Homo sapiens: one gene and its partners. The protein of the gene in region 3 purifies or fractionates together with the protein of the main gene of each other region. This does not show direct contact. Each region holds a gene or a part of one and is shown on either strand. Other genes may lie near its edges.

What was found. Proteins that work in one complex are often made in the same cells at the same time.
Region 1: the proteins of PIP (region 3) and ITPKC purify together in Homo sapiens (co-immunoprecipitation; 2 studies listed by BioGRID and IntAct, with this or other methods). This does not show direct contact.
Region 2: the proteins of PIP (region 3) and QRICH1 purify together in Homo sapiens (co-immunoprecipitation; 2 studies listed by BioGRID and IntAct, with this or other methods). This does not show direct contact.

What each region holds. Positions count from the first base shown.
Region 1 is NC_000019.10:40,733,537-40,741,111, forward strand, and holds the end of ITPKC (inositol-trisphosphate 3-kinase C), read left to right. Parts: intron 1-3,449; coding exon 3,450-3,551; intron 3,552-4,161; coding exon 4,162-4,233; intron 4,234-5,270; coding exon of another isoform or gene 5,271-5,315; exon of another isoform or gene 5,316-5,820; coding exon 5,821-6,024; 3' UTR 6,025-7,324; downstream 7,325-7,575. UniProt on the Homo sapiens protein: Catalyzes the phosphorylation of 1D-myo-inositol 1,4,5-trisphosphate (InsP3) into 1D-myo-inositol 1,3,4,5-tetrakisphosphate and participates to the regulation of calcium homeostasis.
Region 2 is NC_000003.12:49,084,072-49,091,646, forward strand, and holds part of QRICH1 (transcriptional regulator QRICH1), read right to left. Parts: intron 1-7,575. UniProt on the Homo sapiens protein: Transcriptional regulator that acts as a mediator of the integrated stress response (ISR) through transcriptional control of protein homeostasis under conditions of ER stress.
Region 3 is NC_000007.14:143,126,941-143,135,580, forward strand, and holds the start of PIP (prolactin-inducible protein precursor), read left to right. Parts: upstream 1-5,136; 5' UTR 5,137-5,176; coding exon 5,177-5,271; intron 5,272-8,253; coding exon 8,254-8,359; intron 8,360-8,640.

The sequences.
Region 1 (7,575 bases), on a different chromosome or scaffold from region 3:
TTTATCCGTCTGCCTGAGCATCTCCTGAGTCCATCTTTTCCTCCTCTCCTTCTCCATGGTCATGTCCTAGTCCAGCCCCATCTTCTCCTGCCTCTGTCTCCCTGGGCATCCTGGCCCTGGTCTCCCTGCAGCACAAGAGCTGGAGGGATCCCTTTCCCCCAGCTATGGAGAAGGTTTCTCTTTTTCTTTCTTGCATTCCTTTTTCTTTGTCAAATTAAATATAATTGTATGAATAGGCCAGGCATGGTGGCTCATGCCTGTAATCCCAGCACTTTGGGAGGCCAAGGCAGGAGGATTGCTTGAGGCCAGGAGTAGTTCAGGACTAAGCTGGCCAACATAGGGAGCTTCTGTTTCTAGAAGAAAAAAAAATTGTTTGAATAGCTAGTCACACAGTTCAAAAGTCAAAATAATATTATAAAAGGGTAAATGTGGAGAAATTTCTCTCCCAACTCTGCTGCTGTCCTTCCCATTCTGTCCCTCTATCCCTCTACCTGCTCATGGGGAACCACTTTGTCAGTTTCTTGTATTTCTTCCTGTTAGTGCCAGTAAATGGAGTTGTAGATCCGAAATGTTCCTCAGTACGCATACTGATTGGTACTTTGCTATTTTCACTTAATAGTAACACCCTGCAGAGTTTTCCACATCATTCCATAGAAAGCTTCCTCTTTCTGTTTTTTTTTCCCCCACAGCTATGTAACACTGTTTTTGTGACTGTGCCTGGTCCCCTATAGACAGACACCTGGGTTGTTTCCATTTTTTGCCATTAGCAGGCCTCAAAGAATCACTTTGTATATAAGACATTTTGCAAGTATGCAGATTGAGCTGTAGATTTCCAGAAGCAGGACTCCTGGGTCAAAGCTTAAAGGCATGGGAAATTTGCGAGAGATGACCAAACTTCCACTCTCGGTGTTATGCCACTGCACATCCCACCAGCAATGTATGAGAATGCCTGTTGCAGATCCGACCATGCCATTCTCCTGTTCGAAACCCTTCTGTGGCTCCCTAGTACCTTGAAGTGAAGTTCCATAGCCTGTAGGGCCCTCTAGGATCTAGCCTCTTCTCTCTCATTCTTCTCTTTTCTTTTTTTTTTGAGAAAGAGTCTCGCTCTGTCACCCAGGCTAGAGTGCCATGGCACAGTCTCAACTAATTGCAACCTCCACCTCTTGGGTTCAAGCGATTCTCCCACCTCAGCTTCCTGACTTGACGTGATTACTGGCACGCACTACCATGCCTGGCTAATTGTTGTTTTTTTTTTTTTTTTTGAGACAGAGTCTCGCTCTGTTGCCCAGGCTAGAGTGCAGTAGTACAGTCTTAGCTCACTGCAAACCTCTGCCTCCCGGGTTCAAGCGATTCTTCTGCCTCAGCCTCCCAAGTAGCTGGGATTACAGGTGTGCACCACCGCTCCTGGCTAATTTTTGTATTTTTAGTAGAGACAGGGTTTCACCATATTGACCAGGCTGGTCCTGAACTCCTGACCTTGTGATCCACCCGCCTTGGCCTCACAAAGTGCTGGGATGATTACAGGCGTGAGCCACTGTGCCCGGCCTAATGTTTGTATTTTTAAGAGAGGCGGGGTTTCACTATGTTGACCAGGCTGATCTTGAACTCCTGGCCTCAAGTGATCTGCCTGACTTAGCCTCCCAAAGTGCAGGGATTATAGGCGTGAGCCACCACGCCCAACCTCTCATTCCTCTCATTCTTTCTGTGTACCTTCAGGCACAGTGAAGCACTTGCATTTACTTGAAATAGGCTTGCTTTTTCCTGCCACAAGGCCTCTGCACCCCTCTGCCAGGAATGCTCTTCTATTTTTTTTTTTTTTGAGACAGGGTCTCACTCTGTCATCCCCCAGGCTGGAGTACAGTGGCGCGATCACAGCTCACTGCAGCCTCAATCTCCTAAACTCAAGTGATCCCCCCACCTCAGTCTTTTGAGTAGCTGGGACACAGGTGCGTGCCACCACACCCTGGTCTCTTCCGTCTGTGCCCCCTGGTCTGGTTGATTCTCAGTCATTTTTCTGTCTCCTTTCAAATTTTGCTTCCTCAGGGAAGCCCTCCCTGATTTCTGTTCTACTGATCAGGGTCCCCTCTTCACCTCCTCATAGCTCCTTATACTCTTTCATTATTCTTATCTTCCTTTCTGATCATCTTAATCAGTGTCTGCCCCCTCATCTGACTGTGTCTGTCGTGTTACTCCCTATTGCCAAGTGCCCACATAGCACCTGGCACAGTGTGGCAGATGACTTAGGTGGGTTCTCTGAGCCCTACTGAAACATAACAGATAACATTAGTCTCATTAGTCTCAAATAACTATATGCCAGGCACTGTGCTGTGCATCCTACACACCTGGTTTCCTCTAATCCTTACACCAGCCTTAGCAAGTAGACACCAACACAATTCCCGTTTTCCAGATGAGGAAACTGAGGCTGAGGCAGCTGAAATGACTTAAGACTGCCCAGCTAGAAAAGAGCAGAGATGGCCAGGTGCAGTGGCTCACGCCAGTAATCCTAGCACTTTGGGAGGCCAAGGCGGGCGGAGCATGAGGTCAGGAGATCGAGACCATCCTGGCTAACATGGTGAAACCCCGTTGCTACTAAAAATACAAAAAATTAGCCAGGCGTGGTGGCGGGAGCCTGTAGTCCCAGCTATCAGGAGGCTGAGGCAGGAGAATGGCATGAACCCAGGGGGCGGAGCTTGCAGTGAGCCCAGGTTGCACCACTGCACTCCAGCCTGGGTGACAGAGTGAGACTCTGTCAAAAAAAAAAAGAAAAGAGCAGAGTCACGATTCACAGCCAGCTCCACCCTGCTCCAAAGCCCACTTTCCTAGATGGGTTCAACCAGGAGGTTCAAGGTTGGAAGGGTGTGGAAGGACTGGGGCTCAGGCATGTGACCTGGGGCTGGGTTGAGCTGGGCTGGGCAGGTAAGCTGGCTTCCTCCTCTGGCAGCAAGTGTGCAGGCAGGTGGGTGGCCCTGGGAAGTTGTTTTTTTTGAGACAGAGTCTTGTTCTGTCACCCAGGCTCGAATGTAGTGGTGCAATCAATGCTCACTGCAACCTCTGCCTCCCGGGTTTAAGCGATTTTCCTGCCTCAGCCTCCCGAGTAGCTGGGATTACAGGCGCCCGCCACCACACTTGGCTAATTTTTTGTATTTTTAGTAGAAACGGGGTTTCACCGTGTTGGCCAGGCTGGTTGTGAACTCCTGACCTCAAGTGATCCTCCCGCCTCGGCCTCCCAAAGCACTGGGATTATAGGCATGATCCCACACCTGGGACCACAGGTGCATACTACCACACCAGAATTTTTTTTTTTTTTAAATAGAGATGGGGTCTTGCTGTGTTGCCCAGGCTGGTCTTGGCCACCGCGCCCGGCCTCCTGGGAGGTATTTGAGGTTGCTGGGTATTGGGTGCGGGAAGGAAAAGCCCATGACCCTGCCCCTCCACACCCTGCCCTACAGAAGGCAGATGGGACCTGTAACACCAACTTCAAGAAGACGCAGGCACTGGAGCAGGTGACAAAAGTGCTGGAGGACTTCGTGGATGGAGACCACGTCATCCTGGTGAGTGGGACACCCATGTCCCAGAATGTAGCAGCTTAAGACAGCCACCATTTATTCTTGCTCCAGAGTCAGTGGTCTTCTGCTTTGGGTGGGGCTGGACTGATACTGGCTGGCTTTGCTCAGTCTGAGGTCAGCTGGTGGCTTGGCAAGGCTGGCTGGTCCAGGGGGCCCTGCTCCCAGCTCTGCCGGTTGGCTCATGACTTGGCCGCACGTCTCTCGATAGCAGGATGGCCTGGGCTTGCTCTCACAGTGGAGGCAGGGGGCCAAGAGAACAAGTAAAAATGCAAGGCCTCTTGATGCCTGGGCTCAGAATGGCCACCATCATTTCTGCCGTTCGGCAAGTCATGTGACCCAGCCTGGATCGAGGGGTCTGGAGACAGACTCCGCCTCCGGATGGGAGTGGAAATTCATGGAATCCACCACTCTTCTCCATGCCACCTTGATGAATCCAAGCCCTCACTCCTCTGCCCTGTCTTCCCCATGGCTCCCCTATTCCATCCTGGCTAGAGCCTGCCTGCTCCTTTGGGGGAATGGGGTGAGGTCAGAGCTCAAGGTGGGCAAGGCCCCACAAAGTCCCCATGCTAACCAAAGAACGCTCCCTGTCACACAGCAAAAGTACGTGGCATGCCTAGAAGAACTTCGTGAAGCTCTGGAGATCTCCCCCTTCTTCAAGACCCACGAGGTGCGAGCCCTGGCTTCCATGGGTGGATGTATGGGTGTCGGGGTCCAGGTGCATGGAGGGGAAACCATTGATGAGTTACAGGTCAAAGATATAAAAAGGGGCTGGGCGTTGTGGCCCGCACCTGTAATACCAGCACTTTGGGAGGCTGAGGTGGGAGGATTGCTGGAGCCCAGGAGTGCCAAGACCAGCCTGGGAAGCACAGCAAGACCCCGTCTCTATTTGGAAAAAAAAAAAAAAAAAAAGGCCGGGTGCAGTGGCTCATGCCTGTAATCCCAGCACTTTGGGAGGCTGAGGCGGGCGGATCACTTGAGGTCGGGAGTTTGAGGCCAGCCTGGCCAACATGGCGAAACCCCGTCTCTATTAAAAATACAAAAATTGGCTGGGTGCGGTGGCTCATGCCTGTAATCCCAGCACTTTGGGAGGCCGAGGTGAGCAGATCACGAGGTCAGGAGATCGAGACCATCCTGGCTAACACAGTGAAACCCCGTCTCTACTAAAAAATACAAAAAATTAGCCGGGCGTGGTGGCGGGCGCCTGTAGTCCCAGCTACTTGGGAGGCTGAGGCAGGAGAATGGCATGAACCCGGGAGGTGGAGCTTGCAGTGAGCCGAGATTGTGCCGCTGCACTCCAGCCTGGGCAACAGAGTGAGACTCTGTCTCAACAACAACAACAACAACAACAAAATTAGCCAGAAATTGCTTGAACCCAGTAGGCAGAGGTTGCAGTGAGCTGAGATTGTGTCACTGCACTCCAGCCTGGGCAACAGAGTGAGACTCTGTCTCAAAAAAAAAGCAAAGCTAGGCATGGTGGTGCACACCTGTAGTCTCAGCTACTCAGGAGGCTGAGGCAGGAAGAGGGCTTGAGTCCAGGAGGTCAAGGCTGCAGTGCATTTTGATTATGCCTCACACTGAACATTTGCTGTGTATTTGCTATGTACCAAGCACTGTCTTAAGCACTTAATGTAGATTAATTCCTACATATAATATGCCCAGCAGCCTCTGAGGTAAATGATCCTACAGTCGACCCCTTATCCTCAGGTGATCTCCTCCAAACCCCCAGTGGATGCCGGAAACTGTGGATAGTACTGAACTATAGACTGTGTTTTCTCGATCTGATAACCAAGATGGCTCCTAGGTGACTAGTGGGTGGGTTGCGGATACAGCATAGACTTGCTGAACAAAGGGATGATTCGCATCCCAGGTGGGACGAAGCGGGATGGCACGAGATTTCATCACAGTAGTTAAACCAATGTGCAACTTAAAACTTACACATTGTTTGTTTCTGGAATTTTCCACTTAATATTTTTGGATCGCACTTGACTGAGAGTAACTAAAACCAAAGAAAATGAAACCACGGACTGGGGAGACTAACTGTATTACTCTCACTTTGTATATGAGGACGCAGAACCACAGAGAGGTTAAGACACCTGCCTAAGGCTGCACAGACAGGAGGTGGCACAGCCAGGATATGAATCAGGCAGCCAGGCTCCAGGGTTCATGCTGTCAATCACCCTGCTCTGCTGCCTGTCAGGAAGGGACCTTGGCCAGTGCCTGCTCCTCCCTTAACCTCCCGTCTCTACCCCGGCAGGTGGTAGGCAGCTCCCTCCTCTTCGTGCACGACCACACCGGCCTGGCCAAGGTCTGGATGATAGACTTCGGCAAGACGGTGGCCTTGCCCGACCACCAGACGCTCAGCCACAGGCTGCCCTGGGCTGAGGGCAACCGTGAGGACGGCTACCTCTGGGGCCTGGACAACATGATCTGCCTCCTGCAGGGGCTGGCACAGAGCTGAGCTGCTCAGCCACCATCAGGTTAATTGGATGGCGCCAGTCTGGCTGGAGGAGCCCTGAGATGCCATGGGAGGCCTGAGGTTGGCCACGGGGGAGCTGGCCTCCAGGGACGGGAGAGATTGTGTCATGTGCCACACGAGACCAACGTGGAAAAGTCTGAAGGGCCTTGGGAGACCAGGTAGCACCTGGCCCCATCATGATGCAGGGGTTTTGGGGACCTGGAAGGAAGGTGATGAGGCAGTGAGTCAGAAAAACCAGAACGGGGTCCCCGGATCTGCCGGGAAGGCTTCTGAGGGGCTGCCCTGAGAGCATTCAGTTCACATGTCACAGGGTATGGTGTGACAGGGTGCCTGTGGACACATGAATCACTTCTAACCTGCCTCCCTGTCAGCCTCCAGGCTGCCAGCTGGCTGAGGCCAGGGACTGGGTCAGGCTCATCTGTGGCGCCTCAGAGGGTCAGCATCATTGGTGAACAGATGCAGGCGCTGCTGGACCATCTGGGGAGAGTGACAGTCCATGTCTTCACCAGGGAGCCATTTGAGTGCTGAGCGACAAGAGGCTCAGAGGGCATGACCCCATGGGACTGGATGCGGCCTGAGGGCTGATACCGCTGGGCGGTATCCTGCCCTGCTGTGGCCCTGTGGGATCCTCCGTGTTCCTCGGCGGACTCTGCTGACCTCCTGCAGACCCAAACCACAGCCACATCCCAGCTTCTGTGCCAGCACTGTGACAGTACCTCGCTCCTCTGTGCACCAGATCCGGCCTCAGGACTTACACCTCCTGCCTGACCCCCAGGCTTCTCTCTCCTTTCTCCCAGCAAACTGCAGTGGCAGAAAGGAGGTTCAGAGGCTGGGAAAGTGGGCCTCCCCTTGCAACTCAGAGCTGCTGCACTCAGGAGGGCCCCATCCAATCCCGGGCCCCTGCAGGGAAAAGCGCTGGGTGTGTGTCAGAGGCGCAGGGTGGGTGGGGCTGCCAGCCAGGACCCTGGCCTGCAGCCTGATCCAAACCAAAGACTGTAGAACCCTGGGGTGTGGCTAACGGCCCCTCCAGCACCCATAGCCAGGTCTTCCTGGCCCTTGAGGCTGGGCTGGCGGACAGGCACCTACCTCTTCCTTAAGCTGAAGCTCCCACACTGTCTTCCAGGGCTGAGGAGATGCTCTCCTTTTCTACTGACCATCTTGATACTTATTTATACGAGAGGCAGTTGCTGGACGGGGTAGTACTGGGAAGCAGGAGGCAGAATGGCTCTGCTGAGCCTCCTACCCATGACAACACCCCAATAAACAGAACATTCAGAGCCAATGTCGTAGAGCTTTTTATTTTGCATCTGGAGTGTATTTGGACACGTGGGCTGGGTGGGGTAACAGGATAATGAGCAGTTTGGGAAAGAGGCAGGCTCCAAGCAGGCTGGTTCACTCACTTGGCAGTCACTGGGCGGCTATTCTTGTGCCTGGATGTGTTACAATGCAGGGGACACAGTGGTGAGCAAGGCTGCTCCAAGCCCTGGCTGGGATGGGGGATGCACAGACAGGCTGATCAGGGCTGGGATGGTG
Region 2 (7,575 bases), on a different chromosome or scaffold from region 3:
TTACAGGTATGAGCCACCGCACCCGGCCCACATCCGGCTAATTTTTATATTTTTAGTAGAGATGAGGTTTTGCCATGTTGGCCAGGCTGGTCTCGAACTCTTAACCTCAGGTAATCCACTCGCTTCCACCTTCCAAAGTGCTGGGATTACAGGCATGAGCAACCACACCCAGCCTAAATTCTTTTTTATTTTTATTTTTATTGAGACACAGTGTTGCTCTGTCGCCCAGGCTGGAGCGTAGTGGCACGATCCTGGCTCACTGAAACCTCCGCCTCCTAGGTTCAAGCAATTCTCCTGCCTCAGCCTCCAAAGTGGCTGGGATTACGGGCACCCGCCACCATGCCCAGCTAATTTTTGTATTTTAGTAGAGACGGGATTTCGCCATGTTGGTCAGGATGTACTCAAACTCCTGACCTCAAGCGATCCACAGCATCGGTCTCCCAAAGTGCTAGGATTACAGGCGTGAGCCATCACATCCAGCCAAGATTGTGAGACCAGCCTGGCCAACATGGTGAAACCCCATCTCCACTAAAAATACAAAAACTAACAGGGCATGGTGGCAGCCACCCGTAATCCCAGCTACTCTAGAGGCTGAGGCAGGAGAATTGCTTGAATCCGGGAGGCGGAGGTTGTAGTGAGCTGAGACTGCGCCACTGCACTTCAGCCTGGGGAAAGAGTGAGACTCCACCTCAAAAAATGATAAAAAGGAATGCTAACAGTAGTTATGCCTAGATGATGGAACCACAGAGTAATTAAGTTTCTTCTGTTAAACACTCTTCTGAATTTTCCACAAGTGGTATTAATCTAAGGCTCACGCCTGTAATCCCAGCACTTTCCGAGGCAGGCAGATCACCAGATCAGGAGATCGAGACCATCCTGGCTATCACGGTGAAACCCCGTCTCTACTAAAAATACAAAAAAATTAGCCGGGTGTGGTGTTGGGCGCCTGTAGTCCCAGCTACTCGGGAGGCTGAGGCAGGAGAATGGTGTGAATCTGGGAGGTGGAGCTTGCAGTGAGCCAAGATCGTGCCACTGCACTCCAGCCTGGGCGACAGAGCAAGACTCCGTCTCAAAAAAAAAAAAATCATCTTTTTCTACACAGTGGCTATAGTGTAGTAATGGTAAGACACATAATTCTGGCTGATCATAGTATGATTTTCTTTCAAAATCTGAAAGAAACTAAACCGGCCGAAAGAGGTGGCTCATGCCTGTAATCCCAGCATTTTGGGAGGCCGAGGCAGGCGGATCACCAGGTCAGGAGATCGAGACCATCCTGGCTATCACGGTGAAACCCCATCTCTACTAAAAATACAAGTGGTTATAGTGTAGTAATGGTAACAGACACGTAATTCTGGTTGATCATAGTACGATTTTCTTTCAAAATCTGAAAGAAACTAAACCTGCCGAACGAGGTGGCTCATACCTGTAATCCCAGCACTTTGGGAGGCCGAGGTGGGTGGATCACCTGAGGTCAGTAGTTTGAGACCAGCCTGACCAACATGATGAAACCCCGCCTCTACTAAAAATACAAAAAAAATTAGCCAGGTGTGGTGACACGTGCCTGTAATCCCAGCTACTCGGAAGGCTGAGACAGGAGAATCGCTTGAACCTGGGAGGTGGAGGTTGCAGTGAGCCAAGACCATGCCACTGCACTCCGGCCTGGGCAACAAGGGCAAAACTCCATCTCAAAAAAAAAAAAAAGAAAAAGAAACTAAACCATAAAATACCAAAAACTTGTACAAAATAATGAAGACTTAACTTCAAGATGCTGCACATAAGACACAAAAGTTGAGCCTTCGTAATAAAGAGAAATGGAGAAACTTCTAAAAGAGACAAAAGATTCTTAATTAGCTCCAAGTAAAAGACTTAGTAAGAAGCAATAAAGAAATTAATTAAAGTATTTCTGAAAAACATGCAGCCATGAGGATATCTGAGTGTTCCCAATTTCTGGGACTCTGATGAGACTAATAATGAAAAAAGAAAATACTCTAATGCTCTTGGGGTGTATGAGGTCTGTAAACAAGCATTTACTTCTAAACGCTTTTAAATATAGCTGCATTGTAAAAAAAAAAAAATAAGTAACAATAAAGGAAAGCCAGCCCTCCCTTAAACAGACCCTGGACATTTTTGCTGGTATAAAATCAAATTGTTCACTGGTATCTCCTCTGTATCTCCCTCTTTTTCTTTTTCTTTTTTTTTTTTTGAGATGGAGTCTCACTCTGTCGCCCAGGCTGGAGTGCAATGGTGCGATCTCGGCTCACTGTAAGCTCCACCTCCTGGATTCACACCATTCTCCTGCCTCAGCCTCCCAAGTAGCTGGGACTACAGGCACCCACCACCACGCCCGGCTAATTTTTTTGTATTTTTAGTAGAGACGGGGTTTCGCCGTGTTAGCCAGGATGGTCTCGATCTCCTGACCTCGTGATCCTCAGCCTCCCAAAACTGGGATTACAGGTGTGAGCCACTGCGCCTGGCTCCTCTGTATTTCCTCCTACTGGAGCTTAGCATAGTGCCTGATGCACAGCAATTCTTCACTACATGAGTTATTATTTTTATTATTTTATTATTAGAACATAAGATGGTACCATGGACAAAGGTTACTCCAAAACAACAATCTATTACATTTCTATAGGTCTGTTTGCTAATTTTTTTCTTTTTTCCGTTTAGGTACCAAGGGAAGATCTTATTGCAATCACTGTTTCTTGGGTTTCTTATCCCTGATACCTCTTTTGGGCCCCCTGTATGGCTCTGCAGAGTGAGTCTTCAATCCGTGATGGACTAAAAGAAGTCTGAACTGCCTCAGAACCTTACCTCTTCCTTGGGCTTTGAGGCCCCTCAAGGTTCACATCTACTCCAACAATGGCTCTTCATAGCTTAGTCCAGTTTGAATACATTCATATGGGGCCCGGTGCAGTGGCTCACGCCTGTAATCCCCAGCACTTTGGGAGGCTGAGGTGGGCGGATCACCTGAGGTTGGGAGTTCAAGACCAGTCTGGCCAACGTGGTGAAATCCCATCTCTACCAAAAACACAAAAATTAGCCAGGCGTGGTGGTGGGCACCTGTAACCTCAGCTACTCGGGAGGCTGAGGCAGGAGAATCACTTGCACCCAGCAGCCGGAGGTTGCAGTGAGCCGAGATCGCGCCACTGCACTCCAGCCCGGGCAACAAGAGCAAAACTCTGTCTCAAAAAAATAAAATAAAATAGGCCAGGCACAGTGGCTCACGCCTATAATCCCAGCAGTTTGGGAGGCTGAGGCAGGCAGATCACAAGGAGTTTGAGACCAGCCTAGCTAATATGGTGAAACCCTGTCTCTACTAAAAATACAAAAATTAGCCAGGTGTGGTGCCTGTAGTCCCAGCTACTAGGGAAGCTGAGGCAGGAGAATTACTTGAACCCGGGAGGCGAAGGTTGCAGTGAGCCACGATCGCACCACTGCACTCCAGCCTGGGCAACAGAGCAAGACTCCATCTCAAAAAATAATAAGAAAAATAAATTTAAAAAAAATAAAAATAAAAAAATAGGCCAGGTGCAGTGGCTCATGCCTGTAATCCTAGCACGCTGGAAGGCCGAGTCGGGCATATCACGAGGTCAGGAGTTCAAGACCAGCCTGGCCAACATGGTGAAACCCCATCTCTACTAAAAATACAAAAATTAGCCAGGCGGGGTACCATGCGCCTGTAGTCCCAGCTACTCGGGAGGCTGAGGCAGAAGAATTGCTTGAACTCAGGAGGCGGAGGTTCATCTCAAAAAAAAAAAAAAAAAAAAAGAACAATGTCTTCTATGCTTCTTTGAAATAACTCCATATGTTTATAAGACAGACATGACTCCTTAAAATGGAAATTGATTTTTTTTCCATGTGAATATATTCATTTTATTTCATTTATTTTTTTTTTTTTGAGACAGAGTCTCACTCTGTCACCCAGGCTGGAATGCAGTGGCACAATCTCGGCTCACTGCAAGCTCTGTCTCCCGGGTTCACGCCAGTCTCCTGCCTCAGCCTCCCAAGTAGCTGGGACCACAGGCGCCCGCCACCACATCCAGCTAATTTTTTTGTATTTTTTAGTAGAGAGAAAGTTTCACCGTGCTAGCCAGGATGCTCTCGATCTCCTGACCTCATGATCTGCCCGCCTCGGCCTCCCAAAGTGGTGGGATTACAGGCGTGAGCCACCGTGCCCGACCAGAATTGACGTATTTCTATTCTTTTGCCTGGGTTTTGTTTCTTTGTATTTTTATTTTTTTGAGACGAAGTCTCGTTTTCTCACCCAGGATGGAGTGCAATGGCATCATCTCGGCTCAATGCAACCTCCGTTTCCCAGGTTCAAGTGGTTCTCCTGCCTCAAGCCTCCCTAGTAGCTTGAACTACAGGCGCACGCCACCCAGCCCAGCTAATTTTTTTGTATTTTTAGTAGAATCGGGGTTTCACCATATTGGCCAGGCTGTTCTCGAACTCCTGACCTCAGGTGAGGAGTTCATTTCCACGGCCCCCCTCGACCTCCCAAAGTGCTGGGATTACATGCCTGAGCCACTGCACCAGGCTTTTGTCTGTTTTTTTTTTTTTTTTTTTTTTAATGAGACAAGGTCTTGCTCCACTACCCAGGATAAAATGCAGTGGTGCATTCATAGATCCCTGCAGCCTCACACTCCTGGGCTCAAACAATCCTCCTGCCTCTGCCTCCCGAGTAGCTGGGACTACAGGTCCATGCTACCACATCCAGCTATTTTTATTTTTCTGTAGAAATGGGGTCTTGCCATCTTGCCCAGGCTGGTCTCCAACTCCGGGGCTCAAGCAATCCTCCCACCTTGGCCTCCCAAACTGCTGGGATTACAGGCATGAGGCACTGTGTTCCACCCATATTTCGATTTTTAAGGATACTAGCCAACTGCAGGGTTTGTGATAGAAGTTATCCCATTAGGCCATTTATATGCCCCATGCCAGAGGAGTCCCTGGTTTAGGGGCATTTTCATCACGGTTCTATTTTCTTTTTTTCTTTTCTTTTTTTTTTTTTAAATGGAGTCTCGCTCTGTCCCCCAGCTTGGAGTGCAATGGTGCCCTCTCAGTTCACTGCAACCTCCGCCTACAGGTTCAAGCGATTCTCCTGCCTCATCTTCCCGAGTAGTTGGGATTACAGGCGCCCATCACCATGCCCTGCTAATTTTTGTATTTTTAGTAGAGACGGGATTTCACCATGTTGGCCAGGCTGGTCTGGAACTCCTGACCTTAGGTGATCCGCCCGCATTGGCCTCCTAAAGTAATGGGATTACAGGCATGAGCCACTGCACCCGGCCATGGTTCTATTTTCAATCAGGAAACTAAAATTTGTATTTTTCCCAAATATTGACGGATTGTAAACTGGCACAACCACTTGCATTATCTAGTGAAGCTGAAAATATCCATTCCACGAACCTGAGCAATTTTACCCATCAGTATATATGAAGGAACTTTTTTTTAAACAAGGGTACTTAATACAAGAATGTTCACAGCAGCATTGTTAAGAGCCAAAAGCTGGAAGCAACCCAGATATCTATCAATAGTGGAATAGATAAATACCTTATGGTGTATTCATACAACAGAATACTACATAAAAAATGGAAATGAACAGCTGCACACAATGTGAACAAATTTCAGAAACATTATGCTAAGACAACATAATACAGCATGACTCCATTTATACAAAACTCATAAGGAAACAAATCTAAACTAGGTTAAGGGCTACGGAGATGGTAAATGTAAAAAGAAGAAGAATGTTATCACAGAATAACAGCTGTCTGTACGGCTTGAGAAGCTGTGATCAGGAAGGGACCCACGAAGGGTTCAGAGATACTGGCATCGTTTTATTTCTTGAAAAAGTAGTACTTTCGCCAGCATTTACTTTATAATTTGTCATTAAATTGTACAGAGATCGCCTAAATTTACATGGATGGATAAATATTTCACAAATTTTAAAACAAAGAAAAACATGGGCGGGCGCAGTGGCTCACGCCTGTAATCTCAGCACTTTGGGAGGCCAAGGTAGGCAGACCACGAGGTCAGGAGTTCAAGACCAGCCTGACCAACATAGTGAAACTCCGTCTCTACTACAAATACAAAAAATTAGCCAGACATCAGCCGGGCACAGTGGCTCACGCCTGTAATCCCAGCACTGTGGGAGGCCGAGGCGGGCGGATCACGAGGTCAGGAGATCAAGACCATGCTGGCTAACACGGTGAAACCCCGTCTCTACTAAAACTACAAAAAATTAGCCGGGCATGGTGGCAGGCACCTGCAGTCCCAGCTACTCGGGAGGCTGAGGCAGGAGAATGGCGTGAACCCAGAAGGTGGAGCTTGCAGTGAGCCGAGATCGTGCCACTGCACTCCAGCCTGGGCAGCAGAGCGAGACTACGTCTCAAAAAAAAAAAAAAAAAAAATTAGCCCAGCGTGGTGGCGGGCACCTGTAATTCCAGCTACTCCAGAGGCTGAGGCAGGAGAATTGCTTGAACCCGGAAGGTGGAGGTTGCAGTGAGCCGAAATCGTGCTACTGCACTCCAGCCTGGGCGACAAGAGTGAAACTCCATCTCAAAAAAAAAAAAAAAAGAGAAAAGAGAAAAAGAGAAAAATATTAGCCTTCTGACACAGCCACCATTTCTACCTACAGTTTTGCCCTGGCCTGAAGAGTGAGACCAAAGGAGCACTCCTTCCCTCTTTCAGCAAAGGAAGAAATTAATCTACCATTTCTTCATGCAGCCACATCAATTTAATAACAGAAATCACAATCTAATGTAATAACTAGGAAAAAATACAAAGGAAGCATTTAAGTGAAGTCTGAAGAGGACTTAAAACATCTGGAACAAAATGCAGTACAACAGAATAACAGAAAAGAACAGGTAATAGGCCAGGCGCGGTGGCTCACGCCTGTAATCCCAGCACTTTGGGAGGCCAAGGTGGGAGGATCCCGAGGTCAGGAGATTGAGACCATCCTGGCTAACAGAGTAAAACCCCGTTTCTACTAAAAAATACAAAAAATGAGACAGGCATGGTGGCGGGAGCCTGCAGTCCCAGCTACTCCGGAGGCTGAGGCAGGAGAATGGCGTGAACCCAGGAGGCAGAGGTTGCAGTGAGCCAAGATTGCACCACAGCACTCCAGCCCGGGCAACAGAGCGAGACTCCGTCTCAAAAAATAATAATAAAAATAAAAAGAAAAGAACAGGTATTCATGTAACACCTAATTCTAAGGCTAATTCAGAAATCAGAGACCCTTACAGATCAAGAGTGGCCATTTAAAAAGCAGACAAGAAAGAAATATGGCACATGAAGTATAAACCACAACTAATTAAACTAAAAGAAAGCATATCCAAAAAAAAAAGCATATCCAAAGTAAGGAAAGACATCCCTGATTCTGAAGCTGCCTTAAAGAAAGGCAGCCACATCCAGAGCCCCTGACTTTGGTTACTTTCCTAGAGCAATTCAAATTTACAAGAAAATTAAACCACTATTTGATCTTTAGTTTGAAATGGCAACATAAGCTGGAGAGAGGATGTGGAACTGCAGAGGTTCTCGAAGAGTTATAGGAAAAATTCATCAGAGAGGACCCGAAGG
Region 3 (8,640 bases):
TCTTAAAAGCTGAATACTAATACCTGAAGAAAACAAAACTATTTCACCCAAAAATATACTCCTTTGACATACTTTGAGATGGCTGTTAGAGGATCTGCAAACAGAAGCAGTGCTGCAAAGCTGTCTTTTGTGGGGAGATTTGTGTCTCTAGAGAATCTGCATTGATGCAACAGGCTTTTCCTGAGGTCCTCCCTTGCAGATCTAGGAAAGATTAACTGAGAGTCTGATACCTTTAAAGGTCTGAAAGAAACATTTACCTATTCTCTCTGAGGGCTACTATCTGTGAGATTTCACCTGCATAGTGAGGACTAAGCTCTGTTTTTGTGTGTGTGTATTTGTTTGTTTTAATCTTGGCCAAATTCCTATCTAAGGGGTCTGGAGACCATAAATGCTCATCAGATGGGTTTTATTTTAACCCTGTATATGGTGACTTACTTTCCAATCTGACTCTGGCATAACAAGGAAGAAAATCAAAATGTTTTACCCCCAAATACATTTCCTTGCCATGCCTTGAAATTGCCCTGCAAAGTCTCTTGTGGGAAAAATCCACATTCTATAGAGAATCCCCTTACTCCTTTCTTTTCCTTCCTTCCTTTCCAGATCCAGGAGATAATCACCTATGAGCCAGGCACCCTTTTAAGTCCGATAAGAAACATTTTACCACCTGCTATCTCTGAAGTCTGCTATCTGAGAGCTTCTTCTGCACAGTAAAACTTGATCTCCACAATCCTTTATCTTAACCTGAACATTTTCTTTCTATTGACCCCAGGTCTTCAGATAAACTCAACTAATTGTCAAACAGAAAATGTTTAAATTTACCTATAGCCTAGACCCCTCCCCCCGCCCCTGCCCTTTGAGTTGTCCCACCTTTCTGAACCAAACCAATGTCTTTCTTAAATGTATTTGATGGATGTCTCATGCCTCACTTAAAATATATAAACCAAGCTGTACCCCCACCTCCTTGGGCACATGTTCTCAGGACCTCCTGAGGGCTGTGTCACAGGCCATGATCACTCATATATGGCTTAGAATAAATCTCCTAAAATATTTTACAGAGTTTAACTCTTTTGGTCGACAATAGCAAGACCACCTTTGCTAGCCAGGCTTCCTCTTTTCCCCTCCCATAACCTGTAGCACCACTGTAACCTGATTTACTACCATAACCTGGTTTTGGCCATGCTCCAAGACCTCATTCTTTTGTAACCTCAAGATGGTACATGAGCTTCTGTACTCCCACTGAGGAGTTGGAGGTCATCATTCTCTCCCATGCACGTTAATAAACTTGTATGCCATTTCTCCTATTAATCTACTTTTTGTCAGTTTATTTCTCAGTGAAACTTCAGAAGGCAGAAAAAAAGTTTTCCCTTGGCCCCTACATCACCAGGGTGACCTTAGAAATGACACTAAAGGCCAGGCATTGTGGCTCACGCCTGTAATCCCAGCCCTTTGGGAGGCCAAGGGGGGGTGGATCACCTGAGGTCAGGAGTTTGAGACCAGCCTGGACAACATGGTGAAACCCCGTCTCTACTAAAAATAAAAATAATTAGCTGGGTGTGGTGGCAGGCACCTGTAATCCCAGTTACTCAGGAGGCTGAGACAGGAGAATCACTTGAACTTAAGAGGTGGAGGTTGCGGTGAGCCGAGATTGCGCCACTGCACTCCAGCCTGAGTGACAAGAGTGCAACTCCACCAAAAAAAAAAAAAAAAAAAAAGGAAGAAAGAAAGAAATGACACTAAAGATGACAGAGTTTCTAAGAAAAGAGTCACACTCCAGCTTCTCTCACCTCTGAGAGATTTTGCTTGGATATAACCTCCTCTAAGAAACAACTCATTACATCTTACATCTTCAGTATGCATTAGATGCCCTTCTACAAGTCTTGTGCCAATTATGCTTTTATTAAGTAAGAGGAAATATAGAGTAGTCACTCTAAGTGCCAACTCCGGATTCACTTCTATCTGGGTTCCAATGGTTTGGCTTAGTCATATGGCCAAGCCAAACTTCAATACCTTTGTTATTTGTTGGCTCTGTGACTTGAACAACTTATTAAAACCTCTGTGAGTTTCCTTTTCTCAACTTTAAACTGTTGCTACATCAATAAATAGACTAGACAAGTGTTTAAGGACATAAACTCTGGTATCAGACTACTTGATTTTGAACCCCTAACTCTGCCAGTTACTAACTTTGCAACTTGTTCTCGCCAGTAGGCAGTGCAGTGGTTAAAGGGTCATGTTCCAGGGCCAGACTGCCAGCGTGGAAATTCTGGCCCCACCCAAAGGTGTATTCGCCATTAAGTTAATGGCATGAAGCCTCAGGGCTTCCTACTTATGGGTGCCTCCTCCAAGATCCTGTACCTGTAGTTTACATTTGTAAGTTTGGATTCTATTTCAAAAAGAGGTTCTCAGATACTGTAAATCAAAACTCAGATTCCACAAAACCTGCTTGCAAAGTTGACTCTGCCATATACTGGCTATATGGTCTGGGTTAGATATTTATCTCCTGGGTCTCTGTTTCTCCTCTTGTAAAATGGAATAAAAATGGCAACCACCTTCACAGGGTTGTAATAAAGATTGAGCTAATATATGTTAAAATGTTTAGAGCAGTGTAATGCACACAGCATATGCTTCATGTGTGTTGGTGTCTATAACTCCCTCTCTGTCCACTCCTTATCTTCTTCTCATGAGCCCTGTCAGGACTAAGATTATCTTTCTCTTTGTAAACTTAGCCTGTGGCAAGCCTCACCTATATTCTAACTCTTTCCCTATGGGACTATACACATTCTCTTCTGTAAGCTTCCTGAGTTGTTTACAATCTGATTTTATCAACCTTTATCTGATTTCTTAAACCTAGACTTGTTCATTCTTTATGGCATAATAATTATGGTTTCTTTTTCTCCCTAATCTTCTTCCTCAAGGGACCTCAAGCTTTTCTCTTAAGACTTTCAACTGATCCAATGAGTCTGACCCATATTATGGAGGTAATCTGTTTTACTCAAATTTTACTGATTTAAATGTTAATCACATTTAAAACAAACAAACAAACAACAACTTCACAGCAACTTCTAAACTGTTGTTTTTCCAAAAAGTGGGCACCATGCCTAGCTAAGCTAACAAATAAAAGTAACCATCACAGCAGTCATGGCCTGAATAAGACTTGTCCTAGGCCAGGCACAGTGGCTCACACCTGTAATCCCAGCAATTTGGGAGGCCGAGGCAGGTGGATCACTTGAGGTCAGGAATGTAAGATCAGCTTGGCCAACATGGTGAAACCCCATCTCTACCAAAAATACAAAAATTAGCCGGGTATGGTGGCACCTGCCTATAATCCCCACTACTCGGGTGGCTGAGGCATGAGAATTTCCTGAACCCGGGAGGTGGAGGCTGCAGTGAGCTGAGATCATGCCACTGCACTCCAGCCTGGATGAGTGAGATTCTGTCTCAAAAAAAAAAGATTGTCCTGTACATTGTAGGTATTGCAGTTTCCTGCTAGCTCACAGAAGAACAGCCTCATTACCTTCAATAGATGCTCTTAACCCATCGTCATCTGCCTTCCTCTGGACACTGCCTTTTGGGAGTGCTGGAGTTGCATCCTCAAGGACAGGGCTATGCCTTCAAAGAGCCAAGCAAAGAACTTTTCCTGCATTTTCCCACACAGACACTTCCTAGATTCTTCTGCCTTATGCCTGCCTTGGTCAGTGTAGCTAGGATGTGCTTCAAATGGAAATTATGCAAGTGAGAAGGACCAGGTGTAAAGACAATTTAATTGTGGGAAAAGGCTTACAAAGGAAGGTCATTGTGACCCTCACAAGCAGTGTTCTTGAGTGGATAGGACATAAACAGGGAAGAAAGCATGTGATCATGAGAACAGCTGAAGTTCTGAGTGAGCAATGACATGAATGGTGTCCAATTCAAAGAAAAGAGAAGGTAGATCCAGGAGCTGAATAAACAGACAGAGCAATTTTGAGAGATACATCCAGAAAGCAGAAGCACACACTTACACTTTAGCTCTGAATCCTGGCTAAAGCAACATACAGAGGCGGTAACTCCTAGAACTCTGATTTTCACTCTGTTGCCAGAGAGGCTCTTCCTGGGCAGCTGTGTGCCATGCAAATGATAGAAACAAATCCCATAGTATTGTAAGTCATAGGTTAAGGAGCAGATTTAATTTCATAAGGAGAAATAACACAATGCCAGTGTCAGCAAGAGCAAGTCTCCCCATCATCCCAAGGAGAGGAATTCTACAACCTGGGTATCTACTGGACATAATGTGGGCTCCATTCTCACAGAAGGAATCCTTTCCACTGTGGTTCTTCCTGTGTGGCTTACGCATGAGACAAGTGTAAGAAAGTGGCCATGTCAATAAGAAAATAAGCCAGCTCTTTGGTGCCAAGAAGTCTGATTTGGGGGTGCCAGCTATTTATAGGAATTGTCTAGAATTAAAATATCACCCTGCCTTGGGGATTGTGGGGCAGCTGGGGATCTTGGACATCTGCAGTATATTGCAACCACACCTGAAATTAAGAAGGACTCAATGACAATAAACATCTTTACATCACCCAGTGTCTTGAACTCACTTCCCCATCATGTAGAGCAGCTCAGGTCTTCTCTAGCTCTTCCACCTCATGATGGGTAGTGACTGCTAGGGAAGTCCTGATCATCCTAGCCCTCCAAGAAATGTTTTGAATAGCATTGCATCTTGAACTCACTATAATTTGATCAAGCAAAGATGTTCTATGTCTCTGGTCTGAAACCTGCCACCACAGCTGTGTTCTCTGCTTTCAGAGACCAGGGGAGCAGTGACTGAAGCTAAGACTACACATAGCACTTCAGACAGGCAAATTAGGAGGGAAAAGAAAACTGAATCTGTAAACTCGGGAAAAACTGGTGTATCTTTTGAGGTCCCAGCCATTTTGAGAAACTCTGATGCTGAAAAAATAAGGAAGAACAATCTGACTCCTCTCTCAAACGCTGACATTCTAGCTGAGTGTTGATTTTTTCTTAGAAAAACAAACTTTGGGTCAACAAGGAAAGATCACGAGTGGGGAGGGTGAATGGGTGATTCACCTCATGGATCTCCCTGGCAGCTCTTGCACTTCCTTGATCAATCTGTATATAAGAAATGTGCTGGGCACCTGGGACACCACTTCTCTGGGACACATTGCCTTCTGTTTTCTCCAGCATGCGCTTGCTCCAGCTCCTGTTCAGGGCCAGCCCTGCCACCCTGCTCCTGGTTCTCTGCCTGCAGTTGGGGGCCAACAAAGCTCAGGACAACACGTGAGCCATGCCCTTCTCCTCCCCACAAAAAAAATTGCAGGGAGGGCTCCTCTCCCAGTCTGGAAATTACATATCTCTTTCTGAGAATTTCTTTCAACTTCCCAGAACTCTAGTCCCAGGAGCTCCCATGGATCTCCTGCCAGGTTCCACTTCTTGTCCTCTTAGGAAGCCCCACCAACTCCTCTCACATTTTTGCTGGGTGTTTCTGCATTGCCAGTGGAAATAAAGCTCCAAATGTACCTACAGGCTGTAATTAGTAGTTAGTCTTCATCTAACATGCTGATCCACATCTTGTTCATAATTTATACCTTTGTTCAGATTTCTGCTCAGTAAACTTTACCTTCTCACACCTTGCCTCCTAGAAGAGAAGCATAACAGGTCTGTGAATTCCAATGGCAGCTTAGGGCAGCTTTGGCAGGACTGGCTAAAGGACCAGAGGCCCTGGCCACTGCCCTGTGGTCTGAGATTGAGCTAGACTGGCAGCTTAGACATTCTTCCTAACCTGAAGTCTGAAGATGAATATGATGACCTCTTGCTCTCACGTATACTGGGACCTGAGAGCACAGGTTCAGAAGTCAACTTATTGAGAACACATGTGTGAAGGAAGCAGAAAAATTGGAGCAAGTAAAATAAAGTAGAAAATGGAGCCAAGGGTCTGGGAGAAAGCAGCGATACCCAATCTAGGGAGTTTTCTCTATAGCAGTAGGGTTTATAATGCTGGGTTTCTGGGTTGTGATCTTGGAGGTACTCTCTATGGCATGGTCAGATATCCTGTCCTGGAGGAAACTGTTCAGGGTTTTGACAAGCTAATGTAATGGAGGCAAGTGTCCCAAGAAACCCTGCATGGGGACAGGTTCAGATCCCACCCCATTCCCGCCAGATGACAGTCCACTTAGCCCTGAAGGGCAGCAAGGTATTCAAATAAGCTATGCTAATTAGGTTATCAACCATCCATCCTGATTTGCCCAGAACTTTCCTGGTTGTAGCACTGCAACTCTGCCCTCCCCCGCCACCTCCACAACCCATTCTGGAAAAGACCTCAGTCCTGGGTAAACTGAGATGGTTAGTCACTCGAACTAAGCTGGTCATCCTATCAATCTGAAACTCATATACAAATGGGAGAGATTTTGAAGTTGCTTAGGTATTTATACCCTTTTCCTGTGCACTGGGCACTACAGCAGTTGGCACCAAAAAATAGAATCTCTCTAAGATGCTTTGCCCCAAGAAAATGGGGCTGTGAGACACTGTGGGCTAAGAATCTCAATTCCCTTCTGTCCCACACAATAACAAAGGTCCGTAGCCGGGAGTTTCTAGGGACGAGAAAATAACTCTCCTGGCCCCGAACCCAGTCCTCATTGACTGAAGAAGAACATTTGACCATTTTATTTGTCTCCATTTCCTTTCCTTTTCAGATTGCAGTGTATGGTCTAAATGTAGAGTAGTATCTAAAGTTCCCAAACATGGCCATATGTCCAAATTTCCTAAGGAGCTAAATAAATACAAATTCCTAAACCCTACCTGGGGACCACAGAAGGAGGATCTTCAAAGATGCTCCTACAAATACCTCCAGTGCATTGAGATGTTTGCTGGGTTTTTAAAATTTTTTATTATTTTATTTTATTTTTCCATAAGTTACTGGGGTACAAGTGGTATTTGGTTACATGAGTAAGTTCTTTAGTGGTGATGAGATTTTGGTGCACCCATCACCCGAGCAGTATACACTGCACCATATTTGTAGTCTTTTAGCCCTCACCCCTCTCCCACTCTTCCCCGCAAGTCCCCAAAGTCCATTGTATCATTCTTATGCTTTTGAGTCCTCAAAGCTTAGCTCCCACATATCAGTGAGAACATACGATGTTTGGTTTTCCATTACTGAGTTACTTCACTTAGAATAATAGTCTCCAATCTCATACAGGTCACTGCAAATGCTGTTAATTCATTCCTTATTATGGCTGAGTAGTAGTATTCCATCATATATATATATATATATATATATATATATATATATATATATATATATATACCACAGTTTCTTTATCCACTCGTTGATTGATGGGCATTTGGGTTGGTTCCACAGTTTTATAATTGTGAATTGTGCTGCTATAAACATGTGTGTGCAAGTATCTTTTTTGAATAATGACTTCTTTTCCTCTGGGTAGATACCCAGTAGTGGGATTGCTGGATCAAATGGTGGTTCTATTTTTAGTTCTTTAAGGAATCTCCACACTGTTTTACATAGTGGTTGTAGCAGTTTACATTCCCGTCAGCAGTATAGAAGTGTCCCCTGATCACTGCATCCACGCCAACATCTACTGTTTTATGATTTTTTGATTACGGCCATTCTTGCAGGAGTAAGGTGGTATCGCATTGTGGTTTTGATTTGCATTTCCCTGATCAAGAGGTTTGCTGGTTTAATGTGATTCTGTTGCTAGAAAATTTTCTCCTAATAATGACTTGAGCCCTCCTACTCAGTAGACAACCACCAGAGCCTGTAGGATGTTATCAGGAAGTGGCATGTGGTATTGTACATTTTTTCTTTTTAAAAACTTGTTTTTGGTCAATGGAAGGGAAGAAGATGCTCGTTCATTGATGGGCATTTGGGTTGGTTCCATGATTTTGCAATTGTGAATTGTGCTACTATAAACATGCATGTGCAAGTATCTTTTCTAAATAATGACTTCTTTTCCTCTGGGTAGATACCCAGTAGTGGGATTGCTGGATCAAATGGTAGTTCTACTTTTAGTTCTTTAAGGAATCTTAAAGTGTCCTAGTTGTTTTATTAAACAAAATTAAATCTGTGTGAAGTTACCAATCCAATCAACACATGAAAATTCCAGGGGATTCCAATGCTGAACAATTGATCCAAGCCCCATAATTTCCCTCCCTTGCCCATCCTGTGCCCCTTGCCCTGTTCATGGCTCCCCCCTCACTCAAAGATTGGTCTCTGATCCTGGTGTTCTGATTCTCTCTTCCCACAATCAGTCGGAAGATCATAATAAAGAATTTTGACATTCCCAAGTCAGTACGTCCAAATGACGAAGTCACTGCAGTGCTTGCAGTTCAAACAGAATTGAAAGAATGCATGGTGGTAAGTAGAGGACTGGGGGCGTGACTTCAAAAGATAATTCAACTCCTTGATTATAAACATAATTTAATCTCTCACTTTAATAATGTACAGTGTACTTAATGAAACATTCTCACTTATGTTATGCTACTTGAGACTCAGAACAACTGTGGGAGCTTGGGACAGATGACTTCTCATTTTCCAGATGAAGAAGTTCGAATCCAGAGAAGTCTAGGATAAATAAGAAGGAAAGGAAGAAGGAATAGGAAGTGAGAAAGAGGGAAAAAGAAAAAAGTGTAAGAGCT